Homo sapiens: one gene and its partners. The protein of the gene in region 3 interacts with the protein of the main gene of each other region in a pairwise test. Each region holds a gene or a part of one and is shown on either strand. Other genes may lie near its edges. The genes, in order: BARHL1, PAX9 and TLE2.

Evidence for each region.
Region 1: the proteins of TLE2 (region 3) and BARHL1 interact in a two-hybrid assay, tested with the Homo sapiens proteins (one large-scale study listed by BioGRID and IntAct).
Region 2: the proteins of TLE2 (region 3) and PAX9 interact in a two-hybrid assay, tested with the Homo sapiens proteins (one large-scale study listed by BioGRID and IntAct).

The regions. Positions count from the first base shown.
Region 1 is NC_000009.12:132,588,025-132,590,752, reverse strand, and holds the end of BARHL1 (barH-like 1 homeobox protein), read right to left. Parts: intron 1,526-2,728; coding exon 1,231-1,525; 3' UTR 501-1,230; downstream 1-500.
Region 2 is NC_000014.9:36,675,320-36,678,973, forward strand, and holds part of PAX9 (paired box protein Pax-9), read left to right. Parts: intron 1-878; coding exon 879-1,133; 3' UTR 1,134-3,164; coding exon of another isoform or gene 3,165-3,165; 3' UTR 3,166-3,654. UniProt on the Homo sapiens protein: Transcription factor required for normal development of thymus, parathyroid glands, ultimobranchial bodies, teeth, skeletal elements of skull and larynx as well as distal limbs.
Region 3 is NC_000019.10:3,019,160-3,022,813, forward strand, and holds part of TLE2 (transducin-like enhancer protein 2), read right to left. Parts: intron 615-3,654; coding exon 540-614; intron 308-539; coding exon of another isoform or gene 305-307; coding exon 124-304; intron 1-123.

The DNA of each region.
Region 1 (2,728 bases), on a different chromosome or scaffold from region 3:
GAGCGCGGCCGGACGCTGGGCGGAGGGTGGGAGTGATGGGGGGAGCAGCCTCGGAGCCCATCTGTCGGCCCGCGCCCGGCGGGCCGGTCACCAGCTGCCGGGGCCCTTGTCGCGGCCAGATGAGTCGGCTCGGCGAGGGCCCCGCAGCCCGGCCCGCAGCCGACCGAGGCCCCGCGCTGACCCCCGCCTGTTCCGGCACGGACCCCCGCCCCGGCCCTCGGGACCGTCTGGGAGCCGCTAGGAACCAGATGGAGACAGAGGAGGAGGAGGGGAACAACGAGCTGGCCTCGCTGTAGAGATGGGAAGACTGAGGCCAGGGAGGGGAGACCCGGGCCCCAGCGAGTCCCGTCGGGGCCCCCGCGCATGTCCACAGCACCGGGGAAGAGAAGGGGGACAAAAATGTTTCGTTATTGAGGATGGAAGGAAACCGAGTCCCCAGGAGAGGGATGGGAGAGGGGTTGAGTGCGGACCCAGCGACGCGAGCGCGGACAGGCGCCTGGTCATTTGTAAGAAGTTTATTTCGACATTTAAAAAAGAGAGAACCCGAGAGGCCTGGCTGCCCCCGGACCGGGGCTGAGGCTGGGGGCTGGGGTCGGGGTGGGTGGGCAAGCCCCCTTGGCCCCTTCCTGCCCCGCCTGGGAGTGGGGAGGGCACAGGCCACAGACTCACTAATCCACGGACACGGTCACGGGCTCATGGGTCACGAATAAATAACTTCATATACACTTTGCACACGGTATGTACAGCTCAGCCGCTGGCCCAGGTGCTCGAGGGGTAGGGAGACGGGGCTCCGCACTCCCCTTCTCTCCCTGGCGGGGGCGCGGGGAGAGGGGCTGTTCTCCACCTGGAGCGTAGAAGGGGCGTGGGAGAGAGCGAAGCCTGGGAATCAGCCGCACCCGCTCCTGGGGAGAAAGGGGTTGCCTAGGGGAGCCGGCAGAGGCTGGGGGTGGGGAGTGGCAGAGACGCGTATGTACACCCGGCGGGTGGGGATGGCTCCCGGACAGAGCGGCCGCGAGAGAGGACGCCGAGGGGGGCTGGGGAGACGCAGTCCGGGGTCCGGGCCTCAGTGGACTTGGCATTTGGCCCTTCGGGGGGCACTGGGCTGGGGCGCCAGGGAGGGCCGGGCAGGGCCCCCTCCCGGGAAAGGGCGTCGAACCTGCGCCCTCAGAAAGGCGGGCGGAAGGGGCCACGCCGAGCCCGCGGGAGGAGGCCCCGGAGCCGACGGGCGCCTCACCGAGGCTGCGCGGCGCGTGGGAGGACGCCGGCCAGGGGGGGCAGCGGCGGGGGCGGCTCGCTGGCGCCCTGGAGTCCGTGGATGAGGATGCGGGGCACCAGAGGTCTCTGGAGAGCAGGCGGCGGCGCGCTGGGGCCGCGGTACAGGTAGAGCGCCGCGCCGGGGTCCAGGTTGGAAACCAGACTCTGCGGGTAGAAATAAGGCGACGGGAACATCCGCTGGAGCGCTGAGTAATTGCCTGCCTCCGCCAGCAGCTCCAACCCGACGGCCGTCTGTCGCTTCCATTTAGTCCTGGGGGCCGAAATAAACGCGTATGGCGGGATCAGGGCTAGGGCATCCAGCGACCCCAGCCCCTCCCCACTGCTTGGCCCAGAGAGCCTGTAGGGAGGCCAAGAGGGATCGTACTCATTTGTTAATAAATAACCGAGTGCCAGGCACCATCGCACGCCTTACGTGCATCCTCTCCTTTTATCTTCCACCGGCCTTCCGTGGCTCTTACCCCACTTTACAGAGAGGAAAACTGAGGTCTGGGCCGGTTTTCAAAAAGGAGCCTGGGTTTTAAGCCCTGCTGTCTGACCCCAAAGCCCGGCTCTAACTGCGCCTTACCCTGCCCAGGAGATCGCAGAACGAACCCTTGGAGCTGGGTAGGGGGTGCTCCTCCCTGCGCGTGCCTCTTTATGAAGGTAGGATCACCCTGGAGAGGCCTGAGGGGATGGGGGGGTGCTCTTCAGGGAAGGGAATGCGATTGATTCCTCTGCAGGCTGGCCGGGCTGCAAGCTAGCAGAAGCGAGCAGGCCTGAAATGGCAACCGGAGAGGACCCGCTCCCGGCTCGCACGCCCTGCCGGCTGGAGCAGGCTGCACCTGCCATCCTCCAGGGCTCGCACTGCGAGCCCTGCGCACTGTCTGGCCCCAAAGTCCAGAGGCCTTGGCCAGCCAACGGCCTGGGGTTTGGAGAAGTCAGGCCTGGACCCTAGGCTCACCTGCAGGTGAGGCTAGGCGGACCAGCCAGGGTCCCACTAAGGTGGGCTCAGCCACACCAGCCCTGTTTCCCTCCCTGAATTATTCATCATCATCATAATTGTGTAATTACTGTAACAGGCCTTAATTATTGATGCCCGGAGCAGTAATCAGTATTTATTATTAATGGGGCGATGTGTTCTGAGGCTTGTTTATGAAAAGCACCATTCCTGCCTCTGCTAAGAGCGTGCGAGTGACTGTGGGGCTGAGCGTGCGTGCGTGTGTGACTGCAAGTTGTATTGATGTGTGTGTCGGTGTGTGGCTATTTGGGTTGAGTGTGTGGATGCCTCTGTGTTTGTACATTTGCATCTACGTCTGGTGAGTGTGTTCGGGAGGGAAATTAGGAAACGAGTTCAAGTCCGGTGCCCCAACACCCACTTCCCAGTCACCCTGTCCCCAAGGAACAAGGGCTTGGCCAGTTCCCCCCTCGGGTTTTGGGACCAGAAAGGCTGGGGAGGCCTGAAGAGCCTCACAGA
Region 2 (3,654 bases), on a different chromosome or scaffold from region 3:
CAATAATTCACTGGATGCCAAGACAGCACTGGTTTCTCGGCAGGCTCGCCTGCCGGGACTGCTGCATTGTGTTTGCAAACAAAGATTTTAATTTCTAAATTCACTTCAAGAGATTTATCCACGTGGCTTTTAAAAACTCACATCACAGGACCCAAAAACTTTGCAAGCAAAATTTCCAGTTTCAAAACCAGGCATATGCAGTTCTTTTATATGGGGAAAGACAGTTTCCTTTCTGATAAAACAGTCCTGGAAAAGGCACTTGCAATATTCATTTAAAAATCCTTACAAGACAAAGTGCCTGATTTTTGTATGTCCTTTGTCCAACGGGCATTTTCAATATGATCTCTTAAAATATGGTCTATATTTTCTTTAACGAAGGTCGTGTTTGTTGTGCGTTTCTAACATGACAGGCTGCAGTCTGTGCCCTTCTTTACTGAAAATGAAAGTTATACCAACCAGGCCTGTCACAAGTGCCTCAACAAAAGAGCCAAACAAAACCCAAGTCCCAGGAAGGTTGACAAAGGCAATGAGGACAGCCGAACAGATTCTAAGAGTATTTAATTGCCATTAATTCTTTTCTCACCCTGCACCTCCTTCCTGTACTTCCAAGTGGCACAAGCAAATACTACGAATTTTCTGGTTGCAGCTTTCTCTAAATGTTTGTGGAAAGAATAATATCTTGTCATTATGTTTGTTTAAGTGGCAAGACTGTGAATGTCTTTAGAATATAATAAAGCTCAAATTTTTTTAAAAAGTTGGAGAGTAGAGTCAGAGCATTGCTGGCTTACTCAGACTTAAGTTCTGCTTCTTTCTAAGAACGTGTGAAATGTTCACTCCTATAATGTGATTATTTTTCACTTCTTTTCTACTCCTCTCAGGCACCAAATGGTCTCCCAGCTGTGGGCAGTTTTGTGTCAGCATCCAGCATGGCTCCTTACCCTACCCCAGCCCAAGTGTCGCCTTACATGACCTACAGTGCTGCTCCTTCTGGTTATGTTGCTGGACATGGGTGGCAACATGCTGGGGGCACCTCATTGTCTCCCCACAACTGTGACATTCCGGCATCGCTGGCGTTCAAGGGAATGCAGGCAGCCAGAGAAGGTAGTCATTCTGTCACGGCTTCCGCGCTCTGATGGGAAATTCCGTCTCCAGCAGCTTCACCCGGGTCTCCCTGTCTCAGCACCTCCTCCCCCAATTCCCAGGTCTCACATCCCACCCCTCCTGCCCTCCAACCCTTCTGCCTTGAAAGCTGGCTGTACGGACTCACATCCTTTGTGCTAATGACACTTACATATTTCTTGCCATAACTTTTCTCTTGCAGAAAAACTGACATGACTTTAGGATTTAAAAACAAGAGCAACAATAAGCATTGAATGAGACATTTGTGTTGCCCACATACTGTCTTAACATAACAAAGAAACCTACACCCCTCAAAGGGTTTAAGGAACTTTACAAACTAGTCTTTGGTAAAACCACATGTGTATATTTATTCTAAATCAACCTGAACTTTTGAAATGTGCAATTGTTGAGATTTTGCAAAATCAATAAAGGAAAATACTTATAGAAAAAATTATGCTACACCCTCTAATCAAATATGGTAACCAAGTAAGCTTTAATTCATCATTAGGAAACAAATCAATAAGTGACTTGTTTGAGTGATCCTTTGTTTAAGACATGACCTATTTTGTTGAAAAATATATGTAGAACCCAAGCAATATCTGAATCTAGCTCTCCCTGGTGTTTTGACTTGGTTCCAAATACAATAATGTTTATATTTTCTATTAGTTTGTAAATACGGACTCTGGATGGTGCATTTGTGTCTTCATTCCATAAGATATTCCCCTCCCCTCAGCCCCACCCCCTCTCTATTTTTTTCTTTCTTTTTTGCAAAGGTGACTTTCTGGCAACGTCTTTGTCTCTGTTTGGTGGTGGGCTGCTCGGGCTCCTGGACCTGGACTTGCCCCCAAATTTTGTGTATGCAGTGAAGGCTTCAACATCTCATGAAGGACACTTTATTTCTACAGCAGAGGACACGAAAAACAGATAAAACAAGCCAGTCTCCCATTTTGTACCTAATCAAACAACACACATGCTAAGCATATAAAGACAAGAGGGTGGAAAATATCTGAACAAGAAGGCTCTAAAGGAAGTCACTTAGAAACTTAAGTTTAATGTGAAATGTTTTGCAAAGATGCTTAAAATGAACTTTGTGTTAAGAAAACCACTGTGAAACTAAATTGTCCTATTATTGTTGGCTTACCTGTGTGTTCAGCAATCTCAGCCCCAAATAATGTTGTAATTTAAAGAAAATGGAAAATTCTGCTCTAATGAATGTAACAATGGCTTGCTGTGAAGTTTACATTGTTGTACAGAAGCATGTTTCGCATGTAGGTAAACTGGTGGTGGTACTAGAAATACAATGTTATTTAATTTTAACAAATTCCCTTTATTCATTTCTGAAATTACAGGACACAGTTTAACTCATAAACCTTTCTAGACCAATTTATTTTTCACTTTAATGTTAATAACAGTTGTGGAGTATATGTGTGTGTGAGCATGTGAGTATGTGTTGTATTTTAAAACAATTGATTTTCTGGGGCAAAATTCTACAGTTTTTAATCCCTTCTGTTTAGGAAGTTCTTCCTGTTTGGCAATATAGGCTTAAAAATATGTTTTTAGGACATTGGTACAATTCAGCTGTTGGAAAATTAATATATTGAGGGTTTTTTGGTACTAATTCTGTGCAATAACTAAAAGAGCACCTCACTGGATATGGATGTTGAAGATGGATTCCCTAGGTGATTTTAATTTCTTCCGGTCTGTGCTGTGCACAGTCTACATGGCAATGCGGTTCCACCACATCGGTTTCGTGGCTTCGTTTAAAACTCAGATGGCTAGATTAGTTAGGTTTTCAAATCACTAGGATGTAAACAGTAAGCAGATTTCTGACACACAAATTATGTTAGAGTGACTGCTTTTTTCAGACAGCAGATATCTTATAGAGAGCTTTGAACTGCATTTATTTCTAAAGCAACCGAAATTCAGTGCTACAAATAGAGGATTATAACTTCAGGAGAAGAATAAGCAGAAGGAGCAGATGAACTCTCAGGGCCATAGTCTTCCTTTGATCTTGTAAAACTTCCATTGACATCTGGAGTTCCCAGTCTGGTGAGAAAATAGACTATAAACTGAATGGAACAAAGATCCAATCCAATATTTTGGTGGAGACTTCTTTAAAACCATACCATACAGGGACTCTCCTGTCATCTGAAAAACTGATGTAAGGTACAGAACTATTCTTTATCAAATGTTTTTAGGTGGCTGTTAGGGGGCTTTAAAAAATATTACTTGCTTGTGTGGAAATGCAAATAATGTTATTTTCTTTATCTAAATTAAGAAATCTCTTGTTATTGTGCTATTTATAATTTTTTTCTGGTTCTTGTATTTTAAAAAATCTAATATTAATGGTATTGAAGTTTCCTTTTCTCCCTCTAGGTCTTAACAGTGAATTCACATGGAGTAATTTTTAAAAGATATCAGATACAATTTGCTATTCAAAGAAAATTATGATTTAAAGCCACTTTTTAAAATACGAGAAGGAAAATAGGATGGATTAAAGGGTTAACTTTTAAAGATTATTATTGGTTAATGTTG
Region 3 (3,654 bases):
ATTGTTGGGATTATAGGCATGAGCCACTTCATCCCCTCACGCTGATGTTTGCTACCCTGGACTGCCAGTCGTCCTCCCCAGCCCCGTCTCCCCAGCCAATGCCACCCCGTGCTGCCCACTCACCTCTGGACCCCTCGGCCTCCACGCCCGCACGGTCCTCCTTGACAGCCGCCGCCAGCTGAGCCTGGGCAGCCAGGGCTCCAGACAGAGCAAGCAGCCCCGTAGCACTGCCGCCCACCAGCCCGGCTGGGCGGGGGGTGAGGGGCACAGGGGGTGCGTGGTGGGACAGCGGCTGGAGCTGCTGCTGCTAGAAAGGAGGCAGGATGGGCCGGGGCGGGGGGCGGCAGGAGCCCAGCGGTCCCCAGCCCAAGAGGTAGACACAGGGGATGGGACCTAAGCACAGCATGTGCCCCTGGGGTTCCCAGGACCACTGGAGCCAAGGCCCACACACCACCCCAGCTTTAACACCTCCTGGGTGGGTGCCAGGGACCTGGGAGTGGGCGTCTCCCCATGGCGGGGCAGGGGCTAGAGAGACTCACCCCGATGAGGCTGTTCAGCTCCCCCACGGTGACCTGCTTGGCGCGTTCTACGGCCTGGAGCACCTGCTGCTGATGCTGGCGGGTGGAAGGGATCAGGTAGAGGGTACATTGAGCCCCTGCTCATGCTAGCGGTGCCCTTGGGGACCTGACCTCTCCCCGCCACCCTCTCATCTTTGCCCCGGTACTTCCCATTTCTCTTTTATCTTTTTCCCTCTCACTCTCTCCCTTTCCTTTTGGAATTTTGAAATAAGCACACGGAGAAAGAAACCAAACCTAAGTGCAGGTAGAATAGTTACAAATCAGGCCGGGCATGGTGGCTCACGCCTGGAATCCCAGCGCTTTGGAAGGCTGAGGTGGGCAGATCACCTGAGGCCAGGAGTTCGAGACCAGCCTGGCCAACATGGTGAAACACCTGTAATCCCAGCTACTCAGGAGGCTGAGGCAGGAGAATCGCTTGAACCCGGGAGGTGGAGGTTGCAGTGAGCCGAGATCGTGCCAATGCATTCCAGCCTGGGTGACAGAGCGAGACTCTGTCTCAAGAAAAAATATATATATATTACAAATCACAGTCTCTCCTTTGGAGCATCGAAGAACCAAAGACATCTGGGGCTGGATTGTTCTCTGGGGCGGGGCTGTTCCAGGCACTACAAGGAGCCGAGCAGCATCCCTGGCCTCCACCCACTCCATGCCAGGGGCACCCCCAGTTGTGACAACCACAGACGTCTCCTGGTGGTAAAACTACCCCCAAGAAAAAAAAAACACTGTGATAAATCGGCACCATGGACCCTTCTCCTAGGTTAAGGAACAGAAAGTACCAGACTCCAGGGGCCCCCTACACTCCCTGCCATCAGAACACCCTCCCTCCTCCACCTTCATGACAATAATTTCTTTGTTTTTCTGTATAATTCTGCCTCCTACGATCGCCTTCCTAAACCTGCGTGGATTTGTCCGTTTTCAACTACGTTGTGGGCTCATTCTCTGAGTTCTCTTTGGCATCTGGCCTCTCAGCATAACATTTTAAGCTTCTTCCATGATGTGGTGGGTGGCGGCAGCATATTCAGCTTTCAGAGCTGTGGGACTCTGCTGCGAGAAAATGTTATATCTGAGCCGGGCGCGGCGGCTCATGCCTGTAATCACAGCACTTTGGGAGGCCAAGGCAGGTGGATCACTTGAGGTCAGGAGTTCAAGACCAGCCTGGCCAACATGGTGAAACCCTATCTCTACTAAAAATACAAAAAAAATTAGCCAGACGTGGCGGCGGGTGCCTATAATACCAGCTACTCGTGAGGCTGACACAGGAGAATCACTTGAACCCAAGAGGCACAGGTTGCAGTGAGCCAAGATTGCACCACTGCACTCCAGCCTGGGAGACAGAGTGAGACCCAGTCTCAAAAAAAAAAAAAAAAAAAAAAAAAAGGGGGGGGGGTGCTGAGCGTGGTGACTCACACCTGTAATCCCAGCACTTTGGGAGGCTGAGGCAGGTGGATCACGAGATCAGGAGTTCGAGACCAACCTGACCAAGATGGTGAAACCCCATCTCTACTAAAAATACAAAAATTAGTCAGGCATGGTGGCATGCACCTGTAATCCCAGCTACTCGGGAGGCTGGGGCAGGAGAAACACTTGAACCCGGGAGTTAGAGATTGCAGTGAGCCAAGATCGTGCCATGCACTCCCGCCTGGGTGACAGAGCGAGACTCAGTCTCAAAAAAAAAAGAAAGAAAGAAAATGTTGTATTTTTGCTGTTCCACACAGAAGCCACTGGCCATGTGTGTGGCCACCAGGCATTTGACATGTGGCTGGTGCAACTGATGAATAGAATGATTAATTTTATTAAATTTAAGTGAATACAAGTTTAAATATAAAATAAATTTAATAGGCTTATTTTTATTTTTACTTTTTTGAGACGTAGTCTCACTCTGTTGCCCAGGCTGGAGTGCAATGGCATGCTCTTGGCTCACTGCAACCTCCGCCTCCCAGGTTCAAACAATTCTCCTGCCTCAGCCTCCCAAGTAGGTGAGATTACAGGTGCGCACCACCACACCCAACTAATTTTCATACTTTTAGTAGAGACGGGGTTTCACCATGTTGACCAGGCTGGTCTTGAACTCCTGATCTCAAGTGATTTGCCCCCCTCAGCCTCCCAAAGTGCTGGTATTACAGGTGTGAGCCACTGCGCCCAGCCTAAATATAAATTTAAATATAAAATTAACTTAATAGATTTCAGGTCGGGCGCAGTGGCTCATGCCTGTAATCCCAGTACTTTAGGATGCTGGAGTGGGAGGATTACGCTAGTCCAGGAGTTTGAGACCAGCCTGGGCAACATGGTGAGACTCCCTCTCTGTTACATTATACATATATACTTATTTAAGCCGGAGTCTCACTCTGTCGCACAGGCTGGAATGCAGTGGCGTGATCTCGGTTCACGCTAACCTCCGCCTCCCAGGTTCAAGCAATTCTCCTGCCTCAGCCTCCCGAGTAGCTGGGATTACAGGCACCTGCCACCACACCCAGCTAATTTTTGTAAAAAAAAATTTTTTTAGGCCAGGTGCGGTGGCTCACGCGTGTAATCCCAGCATTTTGGGAGGCCGAGCCAGATGGATCACCTGAGGTCAGTAGTTCAAGACCAGCCTGGCCAACATGGTGAAACCACCCCCCCACCCCATCTACAAAAATACAAAAACTAGCCGGCATGATGGTGGGTGCCTGTAATCCCAACTACTCGGGAGGCTGAGGTGGAAGAATCGCTTGAACCCAGGAGGCAGAGATTGCAGTGAGCTGAGATCGTGCCATTGCACTCCAGCCCGGGCGACAGAGCAAGACTCTGTCTCAAAAAAAAAAAAAATTTTTTTAAGGAAAAAAATAATAGATTTAAATATTATTAATAGTTAACCTAAGTGTAAATGATCACACGGGGCTGGTGACTGCCGTGTAGGATAGCGGAACAGTAGTATATTCCACTGTATGCACTCTGAGGCTGCTTGTGTATACACGCTCCTGAAGACAGACATCTGGGCTGTCTCCACCAAGGAGGTATCAGGATGCGGATACAGAGCTCCCATGGGGGTGCACCTGTGTGTGGGTGTGTGTAGGATGGGTTGGAAGACTTTCTAGAA